Linked DNA regions of Homo sapiens: region 1 is linked to region 2. Evidence: fine-mapped expression QTL. Tissue or cell type: left ventricle. Region 2 holds a variant in brackets; the other region holds the start of a gene. All regions are shown on one strand. Distances are from middle to middle.

Region 1 (8,087 bases), 87 kb before region 2:
CAATTTACTGTCCCATAAACAAACGTATTTCTTCAAATCCTCTCTCTGCCAATACGGTAAGTTTTAATTTGCACTTCTTTTATGATCCCAGTTACCTATGCATTGACATCACTGGGCTCCCTGGCCTCCCTAAAATAATCACACAGTTCAGATTAATAAAGTTCTTAAAAAAGTCTTTTTAAATGAACCCAAGTCTTTTTTTTTTTTTGAGATGGAGTCTTGCTCTGTCGCCCAGGCTGGAGTGCAGTGGCGCGACCTCGGCTCACTGCAAGCTCCGTCTCCCGGGTTCACGCCATTCTCCTGCCTCAGCCTCCCGAGTAGCTGGGACTACAGGCGACCCCCCACCACATCCGGCTAATTTTTTTGTATTTTTAGTAGAGACGGGGTTTCACCGTGTTAGCCAGGATGGTCTCAATCTCCTGACCTCATCATCCGCCCGCCTCGGCCTCCCAAAGTGCTGGGATTACAGGCGTAAGCCACCGCGCCTGGCGAACCCGAGTCTTTAGGTCACATAATTTTAAGACCTAGCTTTTTGAGGGGCCACTAAATGCGTTCAATAGGACTACACTGTAACAAGCACTTTTGTGAAGTTTTAATTCCTGCATATTCAACAAATGTTGAATAAATGAGATGAGGCAATTTGTTCAAGGATATATCCAGTGAATAAAAAAGCTAAATTTTGCTGTCCACACCATTTACTTTATTTTTACCTCATTAGAGATAATAAAGACAGTAACTGTCTGCTCTTGAATCATATGAGAGAACTTCCTTGAAAAAAATTATTCTAATGATGATGTTCATGTATAACCATGTATTATTAACCACGTAAATAGTAACCCACACTAATTCAAAATCTCTTTCAATTGTTCTTTTAAGTAAATCTCATTGCTCATTCACTCACTATTCTCCACCTTTCCATTTTTTGTCCTTTAAACTCCTAGCTTCTCCCCGCTCAGCTACTCTCTTCAAGAATGCTCTCCTATTGCTCTTCCTGTCACTGTCTCCTTACCTAACCCTTACACTTCTCTCATAGTAAGCACTCAACCATTTGCTGAATGAACACTGATAGAATACTTACCAAGTTTTCTTTTTTGGAATTACTACTTCTTCAATCCCTAATGTAAAAAAGAAAACATGAATCAGTTTCCTAGTACTACAATGGAATCCAACGTGTTGATATAAAAATAGAATTCAATATATTTTAAAATATACCTGTTACATCAGTTCCTTCAACCTTTGAGAGGGTTGCACTACCAGAATAAAATCTGCAAAAAAACAAAAGCCTTAAATCTAATAGTCATTAATGAAGTACCCAGCTCACCTCCACCTATGTGTACTTTGAGCCCAAATTCTCCAATTATCACGGATTAAACTGGATAACTCATGTCAATGAACGCTGAGAAGACAGTCTGTACACATGTTCAATATCATTAAGGAATGGATACAAGATATGGACAAGACTGTCAAAACTTTTTTTTTTTTTTTTTTAGAGACAGGGTCTTGCTCCATTGCCTAGCCTTTAGTGAAGTAGTGCAATTATAGCTCACTGAACCCTTGAACTCCTGGGCTCAAGTGACCCTCCTGCTTCAGCCTCCTGAGTAACTAGGACTACAGGCATATGCCACCATGCCCGGCTAGACAAAAGTTTTGGAAGCAAGCAATCTCATTACATAAATGGCAGAGAGGGAGGAAAGTTTTTAATAGCACTTGAACAATCTGGTTTGAAATGAAGAACTTTCAACTTCAGGAACCCAAAACACTATGATGTTTAAAAGAACAATTCAGTGAGCTCTTGCTTCTATACAGATACTGCCCTGATCAGAAAGGACTACCTCACTTAAAGCAATTACAACATAGGGAAGATGACCCATGGCTTCTCATTCCACTTCTTTCAACAATCAAGAATGTACCAAATACATAAGGCCTGATTTAGACTTGGAATTGCTGATATTTTCTATTTTCAGAGGTTCAATATGAAATCCTTTTTAAACCAAAATATAGAATCATTGGCCCATGACTGAGTTTTTAAGTGTTCTGTTTAAGTGTTCTGATCACACTAAAAACACAGTCAACACACCACAGATAATGTGACGGTTAGTATTATCTTGTGTTTCCCCTTACTAAATGGCATCAGTAACATTCAGAAAATTGTCAAGATGTGATTGCACAGACAGATACTTCCTCCAGTAGTATCTGGTTTCAGGTATCATTTAAAACAAGAATACCCCTCTACGTTAAGGACATTTCAGAAAGAGATCAACTCTTTCAAGTTTCTGAGATCAACTCTTTCAAGTCACACTATTTGTTTCTCATGACCTTAAAACAGAGATCACAGTTATTTTGAGAACGGATGCTGAGGAAGAGATTCTGCTTCAGGCAAAGAAAATGAGTAGAAAAATGCTAACGATGGCTACCAGGAAACGGAGGACTGGCATTGAATGGCAGCACAAAGGTTTCTGCAGTATCAGATGGAGTGGTTTCTCTTTCTTGAGGGGAACTAAGGGAGAGTACATATAAAAACATATTGTAAATTACATACCCCACTTATACCTCACAAACTTTTCGGATGGTTATTACCAACTCTAGTCTGCAGATGAGGAAATCTGTCTATTATCATCCAATTAAGTGAATGGCAAACACTAAACCTAAAATTAGGCTTTTAGCAAGTTTTCACTACAAATTACTGCCTCTCATATTCCCACAATGCCACTGTTTGTACTGAGTGAAAAAAAAATTACACAGATAGGTCATACATGTTCCAAGCTATAACTATCACAGATCAAAAGGGCATAGTCAGATCTTTTAGACTTTTCTGCTTTTACGAAAACCTGATAACTTCTTTAGCCAAAGTCCCCACGGTGGCGACCAGAGACTGCCTTTTATTTGGGAAGATCTTGTACGTTCTCCTCGCTCCTCCTGATTGGGTTAAAATGAGTAATGGCGGATAATTTTTAATTTGGGGTAGTGTTGCTAATAGCCACACTCACTGGAACGCAAGCTTCATGAGAGCAGGGTCCTAGCTTTGCGGATGGTGTTAACTACAGAATATTGCAAGCAACCAATAAGTATTTCTCTAATGAATAAATGCGTTGCGAATCCTATTTCAAAGGGCCACCTCCGCGTACCTGGTCTTAAGGGCACGCGACCGTTAAGGGCGCGCATGAGCAAACCATTTCATCGTGCCTACTTCCACAGCCAGCTGGGAAACATAGGACTAAGGTGACTCCGCGGTCTTCTTCGCGGATACCCTAAGCGTCTCTTACCTGCAGCTGCGTGCCTGTTCACACAAACCCGCCCGCCGACCCGTCAGCGGCTGGCCAAGCCTGCTGCGGAGGCCCAGCCAGCGAACAGCAGATACAACCGCCATCTTTGATTTCTCTGCAGAGCATGTTGGGAAAGCGTGCCTCGACCTTCAGGAAGGTGGGGCGCAGTGGGCGGGGAGCAGGGAACAGCTCCGCTATTGGCTGAAGCGGAAGAAGACGAAAGCAATCATAAAATGGGAGGTTGCAAGCTCATGGTTTGAAAGACTTCGTCACGGAAGCTAAAAGCTCTATACACCCGATTTGCCTCGGAGGAATTTTCCTAAATGATTATTTTGATGTCTTATATATCTTTGATTGTTTTCAAAACAAAAGAGCGAGCAGAGAGTCGTACAACTATTTGTTCCCCCCCCATGTAGAAGTGATCTCATCCACGTAAATGTCGTTCCTGCGACCGCTTCCGCGCGCAAGCGCACGTTGAATCGCGTGGTGACTCCGGGCTTGAGGTTGAATTAAGAATAGTCAGGTGGTGAGTGGAACGTCTCTTGGGGTGTCGGAATTCAAAACGGACCTGGAGGATGTTGATCTCCAAGAACATGCCCTGGCGGCGGCTGCAGGGCATTTCCTTCGGGATGTATTCGGCTGAAGAGCTCAAGTAAGGAGTTGGTCGGGTAGCGTGCCCAGCCTGGATCTTGAGGTCGGCGCCCTAAACTACGATTCCCAGAAGCGCTTTTGCCCAGTCTATCCTCTTGAGTCCAGGCTTGTCTGGCGCTTGTCCTGCTGGGAGCCGTAGTTCTGGGAACGTTCCTGGGCCGGCGTGGACTGCCTGGATAAGAGGCCGGTGGTGCTGGGGGAAAGAGTTTGCGCTGAGGTAGGGGAATATAAGGGTGGGGAGGGTCCTGGTCTGCAGCGTTATCATCTGCCAGTCTCCTCGTTAACTAACAAGCATTTGTGGAATTAACCATAGTGTACCTGACATGGTTAATTAGGCACGTAGTAAGTTTCCTCTTGTTTGTAAAATGATTGTCCTTCAAGTGTCAGTTCAGGCGTTAACTTCTCTTTGCTAGGACCCTGCTATATTCTCGGTCTGGTTGTTAAATCAAGGGAACTCTCTTTAGTCTTCATTTTGATCAAGGTAGCATTTGACATTCTCCAATGCACTCTCTTGAAACTTTCCTTTCTTCCAGAACCTTATTTGTCTTCAAGTTCTCCTATTTTTATGACAAATACTTCTACCTCCCTCTCTTCCTCTATCGATCTATAACCTCACAAACATTTATTGAGCATCCAGTTTTTTCCAGGCACCAAGCTAGGCGTTAATGACACATTGGTGAGCAAGGTCTGTACCTCATTTTACTCCTTAAATGTTGATGTTCTTCAAGATTCTATTCTAGTAATGTTTTCTTCATGGTAAATATTGTCCCTAGACAATCTCACCACTTTCATGATTTATAGTCTCAAATTTAAATCCCCAACGCAAATTTATTTCCCTGATTTTCAGACCCATTTGTTCAGCTGTCTGTACATCTTTAATTGAATTTCACACAGAGATCTTAAATGCATATCAAAAACTCAACATGGCCTAAATGCATATCAGAAACTCAACATGGCCGGGCACGGTGGCTCACGCCTGTAATCCCAGCACTTTGGGAGGCCGAGGCCGGCGGATCACGAGGTCGGGAGATCGAGACCATCCCTGGCCAACATGGTGAAACCCCGTCTCTACTAAAAATACAAAAATTAGCTGGGCGTGGTGGCGGGCACCTGTAGTCCCAGTTACTCGGGAGGCTGAGGCAGGAGAATCGCTTGAACCCAGGAGGCGGAGGTTGCAGTGAGCCGAGATTGTGCCACTGCACTCCAGCCTGGCGACAGAGCAATACTCTGTCTCAAAAAAAAAAAAAAAAAAACTCAACACGGCATCCCTCTTCAAAGGGAGGGGTTACTTACCCCTCCAAAATGGTGTACGTAGTGCAAAATAGTCACTAGAAACTGGAAAATTATTCTAGATCTCTCCTGACATATAACTTATTTATTGGGCTCTTACTTTGTGTCACCTACATGTCTATTTGTTCTTAGTCTCCTTTTTCTCCCAATTGCTACTGTGTTGCCTCTGGCCCTTATCTCATATTTGAATTGTCTTTTCCTTCCACCCTCCCCTTACACCTCTCAAGTGCATGCTCCACACTGCTGTCAAAATTATTCTTGCAAAGTGCAAATGTAGTCATGCTACTGTCACCCTTAAAACCCTCCAAATGTTCTCCATTTCCCTCAGATAAAGTATATTTTCTTAGCATAGCCTGCAAAGTCTCCCATGATCAGACCAATGCTGATTTTAGCTATAACATCATCCCTTCTTCAGCCCTATTAAACCACCTGCATATTCCAGAAACCGCCATCATATTTCAACATCTGGGCCTTTCTTTAAGCTATTCCCTCTGCATGCAGTGTCCTTTCAGCCAAAAGGAGGTACTTCCCTCTGTCCCCTACCCAACATACACACCTGAAAGCTCAGTTCACCTCCCTTGTTTTGTGAGGTCATTTTGCACATGATACAGTTGTCTGTCATGGTGCTTTAGTGACTTTTTGTGCTTATGTATATTTGTCTTCCTCCACTATCCTTGAGCTTCTTATATGTGTCACTCTTGTCTTTTATCCTCAAGTCTGAATAAATGGATGAATAAACTCCTGAGCCACAGCTCTGGTATCATTGGTAACAGTGTGCTAGCCCAGAAATTCCAATTATATCATCACTGCCATAAGTGGATACGATTTCATCCAAAAGCAGAAGTGTTTTAAGTTGCCTGAATTTTTAAAAAGATAATTGTGGAGTTTTCAAACAAGTTTAGAGTTGAGACATTTCAATAATACTGCCACCTTTTATTGTGCCAGGTTCTAATAGCTTCCCATCTCACTCAGAGTAAAAACCAAGTCTTTACAAATGGCCTGGAGGGGTCATTTCAGTCTCCTGTTACCTCTCTGATCTCACCTCTATTCTGGCTACCCTGACCTCCTTGCTGCATCCAGAGCACCACGGGCACACATCCACCTCAGGACCTTTGCACTCCCTGCTTCTTCCTCCTGTAAAACCCTCTGCCCAGGTGACTGTATGGCCTGCTCCCTCAACTCCTTCAGCCTTTGCCCAAGTTCCTCCTTAGTGGGCTTCTAGGACCACTTGCCTACTCTGCTCTTCCCTTTCCCTGCATTATTTTTCGTCATAGCCCTTTCTGCCGTCTAACAGACTATACATTTTGTGTCTGTTCCCGTTCCTCCAATAGAATGTAAGGCCTGTAAGCATAGCAGTTCTTGTCTGTTTCCTTAGCACTTAACACTGTCTGGCACACAGTGAGCACTCTGGGTATTTGTTGAGTGTATGAATAGATGGATAGAGGAGCTAGCTGCTCAGTGCTTGGCACTTTCAGTCCTTAACGACACCCATTCTCAGTTCTTAACAACACCATTTGTGGTGGCACCTCCAGTAAAAAATTCAGGCCCAGAGAACAAAATGTCTCTCTAGGAAGTGGCAAAGGTCATCTTCAAACCTAAGTCTATTGATCTCAAACTCTACTGACTGGTGGAATCCTTGCTAGTTGCCCCTACTCTTCATCCCACTCCTGTAATGGTGGGAGGGACTTTCTCCTCTACAAAGAGAGAGGAACTTTGTTTGACACTGTATTTTCTGTATGTTATCTTCTAATCATCCCAATAGAGCTGCTGTGATGCCCAGACTTCAGGTGAGAAAAAAATTAGGTAGTTATCAAAGGATACAGTCAGCAGAGTGAAAGGGCAACCCATGGAATGGGGGAAAATATTTGTAAATTATATATCTGATGAGAGATTGATATCTAGAACATAAAAAGAACTCCTACAACTCAACAACAACACAAAATTCAATTTTAAAATGGACAAAGGACTTAAACAGACATTTTTCCAAAGAAGACATACAGATGGCCAGTGAGTATGTGAAAAGATGTTGAACATCACCAATTTTAGGGAAATGCAAATAAAAAGCTCCTCAAATCCAGTAGGGTGCTACTATCAGAAAAACAGAAAGTAGTAAGTGTTGGCAAGGGTGTGGAGAAAGTGGAAGCTTTTTGTACACCATTAGTGTGAATGTAAAATGGTGCAACCACTATGGAAAACAGTAGGGTGGATTCTCAAAAAACTAAAGACAAAATTACCATGTGATCCAGCAATTCTACTTCTGGATGTGTATCCAAGGAATTGAAAGTAGGGTCTCAAAGAGATATTTGTATACCTATGTTCATAGCAGCATTATTCACAATAGTGAAAAAGTGGAAACTACCCAAGTGTCTATCAATGGATGGGTTGATACATAAAATGTGGTATATACATGCAATGGGATATTGTTCAGCCCTAAAAAAGGAAAAAAGTTCAACACATCCTATAACATGGATGAACCTTGAGGGCACGGTGCTAAGTGAAATAAGCCAGTCACAAAAGGACAAGTACGGTGTGATTCCACTTAATATAAGGTACCTAGAGTAGTCAGATTAATCAAAACAGAAAGTAAAATGATGGTAGCAGAGGAGATGAAGAATTACTGTATAATGGGTACAGGGTTTCAATTTTACAAGATGAAAAAGGGTTCTGCAGATGGAGAGTGGTGATGGTAGCACAATGCAAATGTACTTAATACCACTGAACTGTACTAATTGAAACAGTTATGATGAATTTATATATATTTTATTACAGTTTCAAAAATTAAGATTAAAGAACAAAAGGTAAGTAATTTGTTCAATGTTACCCAGTTCAGGGTTGCAGGTGGACTCTAGATTTGTGGGAAGAGACCACACGCACAACTTTTGA
Region 2 (8,104 bases):
GACTTTACAGTGGGGTCCAAAGGATGCCACCATCAGCTCCACCTGGGGCTCAACAAAGCCTGAAAGAAGAAAGGGATGATGCTTCCAGCAGAAACCTGGAGGCCTGCAGCTCTGCCAGCCCAGCACAGCAAGCGAGGCCATTTGTCCAGCAGGGGCAGAAGGAGGGAACTCAGCCAGCCAGCGTTTCCTACAAGCAGCTCCATGAGAGGTTTCCACTTAAAATGCTAAATCATAATTATTTAATCAGATTCGTTCCTTAAGTTCTTTAAGCAGCATCGCTGTCCTACCACGAGTGGTCATCAAGGAGCAGGGTTTAACTCAACTCTGAGTTACCCGGCAGGGTACCTGGGTAACTGCCTGGGTTGAGGTACCCAGCAGGCTTCATGTGCATGTGCACACTGCCCCCTGATAGGACCTGGTTTATTCACAGGCTCAGGTGTCACTGCAGCTCCCCAGTGACTATCTTCGCGCAAGTTGGACTCAATGGCCTGGGAGGTTTGTCCCAGCCGACAGATACCTGACCATGCCCATCCTCACCATTCCCTCCCCCATGCTGCATCCATCCAACCTTGATCTCCACTGTGTCCCAGGCACCCTAAGATGCACAAGCTATGTGGGCCCTGCCCTCACAGAACTTGTAGTCTTCTGCCCCAAACAAGCCAGTTCACCGTCTTCATGATCAGGCCAAAGGTTGAGGTACCCAGCAGGCTTCATATGCACATGCACACTGTCCCCTATAGGACCATGCCTTGCCCAGCTGGCTGCACTCTAGAGGGTGCTTTGTAGGAAGGACAGAGTGGAGAGGACAGTGGGGAGGTACTTGGGTGTTCAACAGCCAGAAGGGAGGGAAACTGAAAAAGAATCAGGAGTCCAGCCATCCCCTCCCCACCTCCTGCCCCCACTTCCACCCTGGCTGCTGGCCCTTTGCCCTTGAATATGGGTGATATAGGTGTGGCTATTCAGTTCCAGTCACAGTGCTGCCTCTATGTCTTTTGCAAGCTGGGGTCTTCCTTACTCAGAAGGCCTGGAGGCCCTGCCAGATGCTGCCTTCCGGACTGGCTGCCCGCTGCAGTGTTTTCACGGGAGCCAAGCCAGCCCCGGGCCTGTAGCCTCCCATGTGACAAAGTTTCAGACACCACAGTCCTCAGCTGGACCACAGTAAACACTTGCCTTCCCCAACCCATGATTCTTGCTTGGAAACATGAACCTGATGTTCCACGTGCGTTCAGCCAATCAAACCTCAAGAATGTGATTGAGCAGTGAGGCTGCGTTTTGGGCAAGACACTGAGCTCTGAAATAAGACTTTTCTTGGAATCTCAAGCCCTCAACTTACAGTGGGACCCTAAGAAATGCACTTCAGTTTCCTTTTATGTAAAATGGTGGTAAAATTAATTGTGTTCATTAAATTGCACACAACTATACATGTTTACCTATACACTAAGTGGTTCTCAACTTGGGGCAATTTGCCCCCCAGGGGACATTCAGCAGTGTCTGCGGACATTTTTTGTTGCTACTGGAGGGAGGTGCTACTGGCATCTAGGGAGTGGAGGCTAGAGATGCTGCTAAACTACAGTCCACAGGACAGTCTCCACAGCAAAGAATTGTCCAGCCCCAAATATCAATAATGCCGAGGTTGAGGAAACCCTGCCACATACACATAGATGCGGGTTAACATTGTTTATTTTACAAAGTGGAATCATTTACATTTTAGCCATTCTGATAGATGAAGCAGTGGCATCTTTTTTTTTTTTTTTTTTTTTTTGAGACGGGGTCTCACTCTGTTGCCCAGGCTGGAGTGCAGGGTTGCAATCACGGCTCACAGCAGCCTCGAAGTCCCAGGACCAAGCAACCCTCCCACCGCAGCCTTCCAAGTAACTGGGACTACAGGCACACAACACCATGCCCAGCTAATTTTTTAATTTTTTTGTAGAGACGGGGTTTCACCATGTTGCCCAGGCTCAAACTCCTGAGCTCACACGATCTGCTGCCTTCACCTTCCAAAGTGCTGGGATTACAGGTGTAAGCCACTATGCCCAGCCTCATTTGTACTTCAGTTTGCAATTCTCTATTAATAAATCTAAGCATCTTTTCACATGTTTATTGGTTATTCTGATTTGCACTTCTGAGAACTGCCTATTTGTATCCTTTGCCCATTTTTCTATTGGGTTATTGGTATTGCTTTTGTCAATTTTAAAGAATTGTATTTACTATAGATATAGATAACCTTTTGTCACTGTGCTAAACATTTTTCTCCCAAGCCAGGTAAAGAATTCAGCACAGTCCCTGCATTGTGTAAAACCTTGAGTAAAGATGTTAGCTCTTGGCCACCCAGGCCAGTGGCCGCCTTTAGACTTTGGCTAGGGCTTCTGGAGCAGTTTTTTTTGTTTGTTTTGTTTTTGTTTTGTTTTGTTTTGTTTTTTGAGATGGAATCTCTCTCTGTCGCCTAGGCTGGAGTGCAGTGACACAATCTCGGCTCACTGCAACCTTTTCTAAGGTACATAGATTGATTGAAAAAGCACAGCTGGGCATGGTGGCTCATGCCTATAATCTCAGCACTTTGGGAGGCCGAGGCAGGAGAATCACTTGAGGCCAGGAGTTTGAGACCAGCCTGGCCAATATGGCAAAACCCTGTCTCTACTAAAAATACAAAAAATTAGCCAGGCATGGTGGCACACGCCTGTGGTCCCAGCTACTTGGGAAGCTGAGGCACGAGAATCACTTGAACCTGGGAGGTGGAGGTTGCAGTGAGCCAAAATTGTGCCATTGCACTCCAGCCCGGGTGACAGAGCCAGACTCTGTCTCAAAAATAAAATTTTTTAAAAAGGCAAATTACCTATTGTGATGGATAAGAAGACTACACTTACAGCAGCATGTCCAGTTGTGCTGGAGGGGACTGTGGTAAGAGCAGAAAATTACCAGAAATCAGGAGCAACATGAAGCAGCCCTGCCGTCATTCGTGGCTTCTGCTTGGCTCGCTTACAAATGCAGGGGCTCACTTTGACCTGGAGCTCACCAGGTGCAGGCTGGCCCCAGTCTTTTATACCTGTTCATCCATCCACTCCTCACAACCACCCAGTGAGGGAGTATGGTGACTCTCCTCGTCTTACAGTAACTCACCCAAAGACATAGTCATCAAGTCGTGGAACAGGAATTTGAAGCCAAGCAGGTGTCTCCAGAGTCTGGGTCCTTAATCTCCTCTCTGTGTCCACCCCCTTTGCTTGGACAGACCCTGAGGATTGGACTTTGTTAAAGGCTGCCCTGCATGTGGTATGGCAGGTAGATGTGAGGGCACCAAATGCCTCTCCAGGCCCCAGAACACCTCTTCTAAGGTATGTCTCTAGGAGGTACAGACGAGACTACTAGGGGGTGGGGTCTGCAGTTTATCTAGTTGGGGAGCTGGCAGCTCACAAGAGATGAAATTAGAGCAAATGAATAACAAGCAGTCACCTTAAGGAACTGAGACTCCCAAGTGATGGCCCAAATCAAAGCACAAGTCAATATTGAAGAGTTTGAGGAAATAGTGGTGGGTTAACCCAAAGGGATCTTCCAGCCTTGGGGCTTTCCTGCGGAGAGGACCTGGCTATGGACTGTACCAGTTACAAAGAACCTCTTTGTGATATCATCTCATCAAATCCCCACAGCCCGGCGACACATGTCCTGTTGGCCCCATTTCACAGTTGAAGAAATGGATCTAGTGGTGAAGGGGAGGCCAGGTCTGCTGCCCCTCTTGGAGATGTGCCTTTGCGTGGGGCACCTCTGGCATCGTCCTCGGGTTCTGACTGGTGTAGGGTGACATCTCCTAGGTCGTGCTGATCAAAGTGGCTAGTTCTCTCCTTTGAAAATAGGAGGCCCCTGAGGAATGAAAGCCAGGTCGGTGAGGGAGGGAATGGAAGGCTACAGAAGCCTGGAGGGTGGATCCATGGGAAGGTAGCCTGCGGGGCTCAGCATGGGGGGCAGAGTATTGAAAAGGGGAAATGGAACAACTTGAGCCAAGGCCATTCCACTGCCCATAGGATGTCTGTCCTGCTCACTGTACTTCTCATCCACCTTCCATCGTGGCCTCTGAAGGCCTGGCCTGGGCGGGCACAGCCCTGTCGCAGGTGCTCTTCCACAAACCGGCTCCTCACCCAGCGTCCTGCCGCCTGGGGACCACCCAACCCCAGGGACAGGGCTGCCCGGGCTCTGCCTGGGCTCTCACAGGACCTGGCAAGCTGCCCTGGCCCCTGGCCTGGGACACGGTGTTTCCCTTCCACCTGCAGGCTGACTCATTGGGATTCCTCCGCGTCCGGTCACAGCAGGCTGGGTCCCTGGGCAGCCGGCGACCATCTGGCCAGCCCAGCTCTAGACTCTCTGTTATAGGCCAAGACTCTGTCTTTTTTTTTTCTCTGTAGTCCCAATTTTAATGCTCAATTAAATATTGGACAAAGAAGGAAGGAAAGGGAAAAAAGAGAAGGAGGAGGGAATCCATGTGTCCACGGTCCTCAAAAATGAACATCTTTTTCTCCTTCATTTTCTAGAGCAGTGGTTCTCACAGTGAAGTCCCCAGGTAAGCAGCAACGGCAGCCCCTAAGAATGTGTTAGAATGCAGGCCAGGTGCGGGGGCTCACACCTATAATCCCAGCACTTTGGGAGGCCGAGGCAGGCAGATCACTTGAGGTCAGGAGTTCGAGACCAGAAGGCCAATGTGGTGAAACCCTGTCTCTACTAAAGATACAAAAATTAGCTGGGCGTGGTGGTGGGTGCCTGTAATCCCAGCTACTTGGGAGGCTGAGGCAGGAAAATTGCTTGAACGCAGGAGGCAGAGGTTGCAGTGAGCTGAGATCATGAGAT[C/T]GTGACACTGCACCCCAGCCTGGGTGACAGAGCGAGAGTCTGTCTCAAAAAAAGAAGAAGAGAAGGAGGAAGAGGAAGAGGAGCCGGAGGAGGAGGAGTTGTTACAATGCAAATTATCAGGCCGCACCCCAGACTCCCGAGTCAGAAACTGCAGGGTGGAGGCTGTTATCTGAGTTTGAACACTATCAGGGGGATTTTCACTCATGCTCCAGTTTGAGAACCTCGGCCCTAGAACTGTCATGAGGAAGCCATCTTACCTCTGGTCTGCCCTCTTTTTAGCTGTTTCAGCCCCAGAACTCTCCTGGGTTTGTGGAAATAGCCCCAGAGGCCCCCAGCCTCTGCAGACAGCAGCTCCTGTCAGCGCCCCAGTTTGACCCGCAAGCGGGCTGGGCGTGGCAGGCCTACAGCAGCAGCAGGTGCAGAATGAGCCTCCAGCTTCTCTCTGCATCCTTTGCAGGCATTAGTTCATTCAAACTTCACAACTGTCTGTGAGGCAGGCGGGCGACACCAGCACCTCTGTTTTATAGATGAAGGAAAGGAAGACTCGGGTGTGTTATCGACTGTTTTCCCGTGAGAACATTCCGACTCCTTGGGGACAAGGTCTGTGCCTGTGAAGCAGTTAAACAACTGGCAGAGAAGTTTTGTGTATCTTGGATGGGATGCGGGGCTCCCACAGATCCTCCTCCCCAGAGCCAGCTGAAGGGAGATGAACTAGGACATCCTAGGGCCTGGCATCCTCCTGCAGTGCTCCTGCGCAGCATTTTCCCAGACCCCAACGAAGCCCACAGGCACCTTTGTCTTGTATGTTTAAAACTCCTGCCAGGCGCGGTGGCTCCCACCTGTAATCCCAGCACTTTGGGAGGCCGAGGAGGGCGGATCACAGGTCAGGAGTTTGAGACCAGGCTGGCCAACATGGTGAAACCCCATCTCTAATAAAAATACAAAAATTAGCTGGACATGGTAACACGCGCCTGTAATCCCAGCTACTTGGGAGGCTGAGGCAGGAGAATCACTTGAACCTGGGAGGTGGAGGTAGCAGTGAGCAGAGATTGTGCCACTGTACTCCAGCCTGGGCAACAGAGTGAGACTTTGTCTAAAAAAACAAAACAAACAGAAAAACTCCTCTAGAACCAGGAATCCCATTTTTGGGTCTATACACAAAAGGACCCAAAGCAGGGACTCAAACAGATATTTGTTCACTCATAGCAGCATTATTGACGATAGCCAAAATGGTAGAAACAACCTAAGTATCCATGGACCGATGCATAAATAAACAAAATACTGTATATACATCCAATGGAACCTTATTCAGCCACAAAAAGGAATGAAATTCTGACACACGCTACAACATGGGTAAACCTTGAGGACATTACTCTAAGATAAAAAGTCAGACACAAAAGGACAAATACTATATGATTTCATGTATATAAGGTACTTAGAACACTCCAATTCTTAAAGACAGAAATTAGAATTGTGGTTGCCAGGAGTTGGGGTGAGGAGGGAATAGGCAACTAATGTTTAATGGAGGCAGTTTCAATTATGAAAGATGAAAAAGTTCTGGAGATGGATGGCGATGATGGTTGCACAATAATGTGAATGTACTGAATGCCACTGAACTTAAAATGATGCCACTTAAAAATGATGAAAATGATAACTTTTACATTGTGTGTATTTTACCACAATAAAAAAATATTGCAACCCCTTAATAATTCCCCATCCACCCCCAAAAAACCCTTTGGGTGTTGGGGCCATTTCCAGAGAAAGAGCATCACACAGATTATTCTGCAAACACTCCACACAGTCACGAGGCTCCATGACTCCACTGTGGCAGGGGAGGGAAGGGCCAGGACACTGGGTTTGATTTCCTGGGCCCCACTTTCTGGCCCTGTGACCTTCAGCAAGTGGCCAGCTGATCTCAGACCCCCAGCCTCCTCTTCTATAAAATGGACTAATAATATCTCAGTGTTCTCATGAAGACCAGTCAGGAAACGATTTGAATGCTTCTGGTACACGACAGGTGCTCAACATTGGTGTTATAGTTATTTATGATGTTCCCTCAGCCTCGAATGTTCTGGCCCCTTCTCTACAGAGTAAGCTCCTATTTATCCTTCAAAGACCCCTCTGCTTAAATCCCATCTCTTCTGTGAAGCTGTCATAGTCTGTAGTATGGTTCACCAGTACCGGCTTCCCCTCCCTGCCAGATGTTGGGCATGGCCATTTGACTTGAATGACTTCTAAGAGTTGCTTAATTCTTTGCCATGAATGACTTCTTTCCCTCTGGCCTGGTCACCAGTGCTGCTCCAGATGGTAGATGCTCTGGCCACCTGGCTCCCAGGCGCAAAGCCCCAGCCAACTCACAGTGCACAGGCTGCATGAGTAAGGAACAAACCTCAGCTATTTAAACCTCTGACATGTGGGGTTGCTTGTGACCCCAGTATAACCCAGTTTAGGGCCACTCCAAGTGTGATCTTCCTACTGCCAGGATCAGCAGCCCTGGGAGCATGTTGGAGATGCACACCTTGGACCCCACCCCAGACCTAATGAACCAGCCTCTCCATTTTCTCATAATTTGGTGCATGCTGAGCATGGCTTCTCTCCCATAAAAGCACTTAGTGGTGGTGGTTCCCCCCAACTCTTCCATGGCCTCTGAAGCAGGCCCTGCTAGTTGCTTCCTCTAGATCTATCCTCTCCTTCTTCCTTACTGAGAATTTGGATTTTATTGGTGGTGTCAGTGTGCTCAGGTTAAAATACTGTTTCCCAGACTCCCTTGCAGCTAGGGATAGTCATGTGACCCATTTCTTTCTCTGGACCAGAGGAAGGCACTGAATGAGACTTCGGGGAAAGCTTGTTCAAAAGGATAGGCCTAGCTAGGTGGCAAGTGCTTCTGGCCTTTGGCTTTGTTTTTCCCTTTCTTCCTGTCTGGAACTTGGATGTGGTGGTGGGGTGTTATGAAATGATCCCAGCGACTTGAGCCTCCTTGTATTCACACCGTCAGGTAGGCCCCACCAGCACTGAATCTGGGCTGGCCTGTGACTAGCTTTGACCAACTGAATGTGGTAGAAATAAGATTCAGGGACTTCTGTTCTGTTTGGAACCTGGGACCTGCCCAGGCTTGGGAGTCAATCACGTCTCTGTCAAGGGGAGAACTATTTGTGCAACTCATCATCATCCAGGCCAGAAACTGCCTCTTCATCTGCAGCTAATTGGTGACCAGGCCCATCCCTTCCCATGGCCCACATCTACCCTATGGTTGATCCATGGAACAGCTGCCTCT

What was found. PIP is the estimated chance that this variant, and not a neighbour inherited with it, causes the effect.
Region 1: POLR1A starts here. The variant in region 2 is fine-mapped to the expression of POLR1A in left ventricle (GTEx, PIP 0.92).

What each region holds. Positions count from the first base shown.
Region 1 is chr2:86,101,528-86,109,614 of GRCh38, reverse strand. POLR1A (RNA polymerase I subunit A) reads left to right here and starts at 3,729. Exons shown (of 34, transcript NM_015425.6): 1 at 3,729-3,915. The coding sequence starts at 3,839. PTCD3 (pentatricopeptide repeat domain 3) reads right to left here and starts at 3,380. Exons shown (of 24, transcript NM_017952.6): 1 at 3,264-3,380; 2 at 1,213-1,265; 3 at 1,079-1,115. The coding sequence starts at 3,367. RefSeq lists enhancers at 3,070-3,329, 3,710-3,919, 4,120-4,209.
Region 2 is chr2:86,014,206-86,022,309 of GRCh38, reverse strand. POLR1A (RNA polymerase I subunit A) reads left to right here. Exons shown (of 34, transcript NM_015425.6): 34 at 1-2,094. Among named protein-coding and RNA genes, the nearest start is that of POLR1A, 88 kb to the left of the region's middle. The variant C/T (reference allele first, on the strand shown) is at 4,831.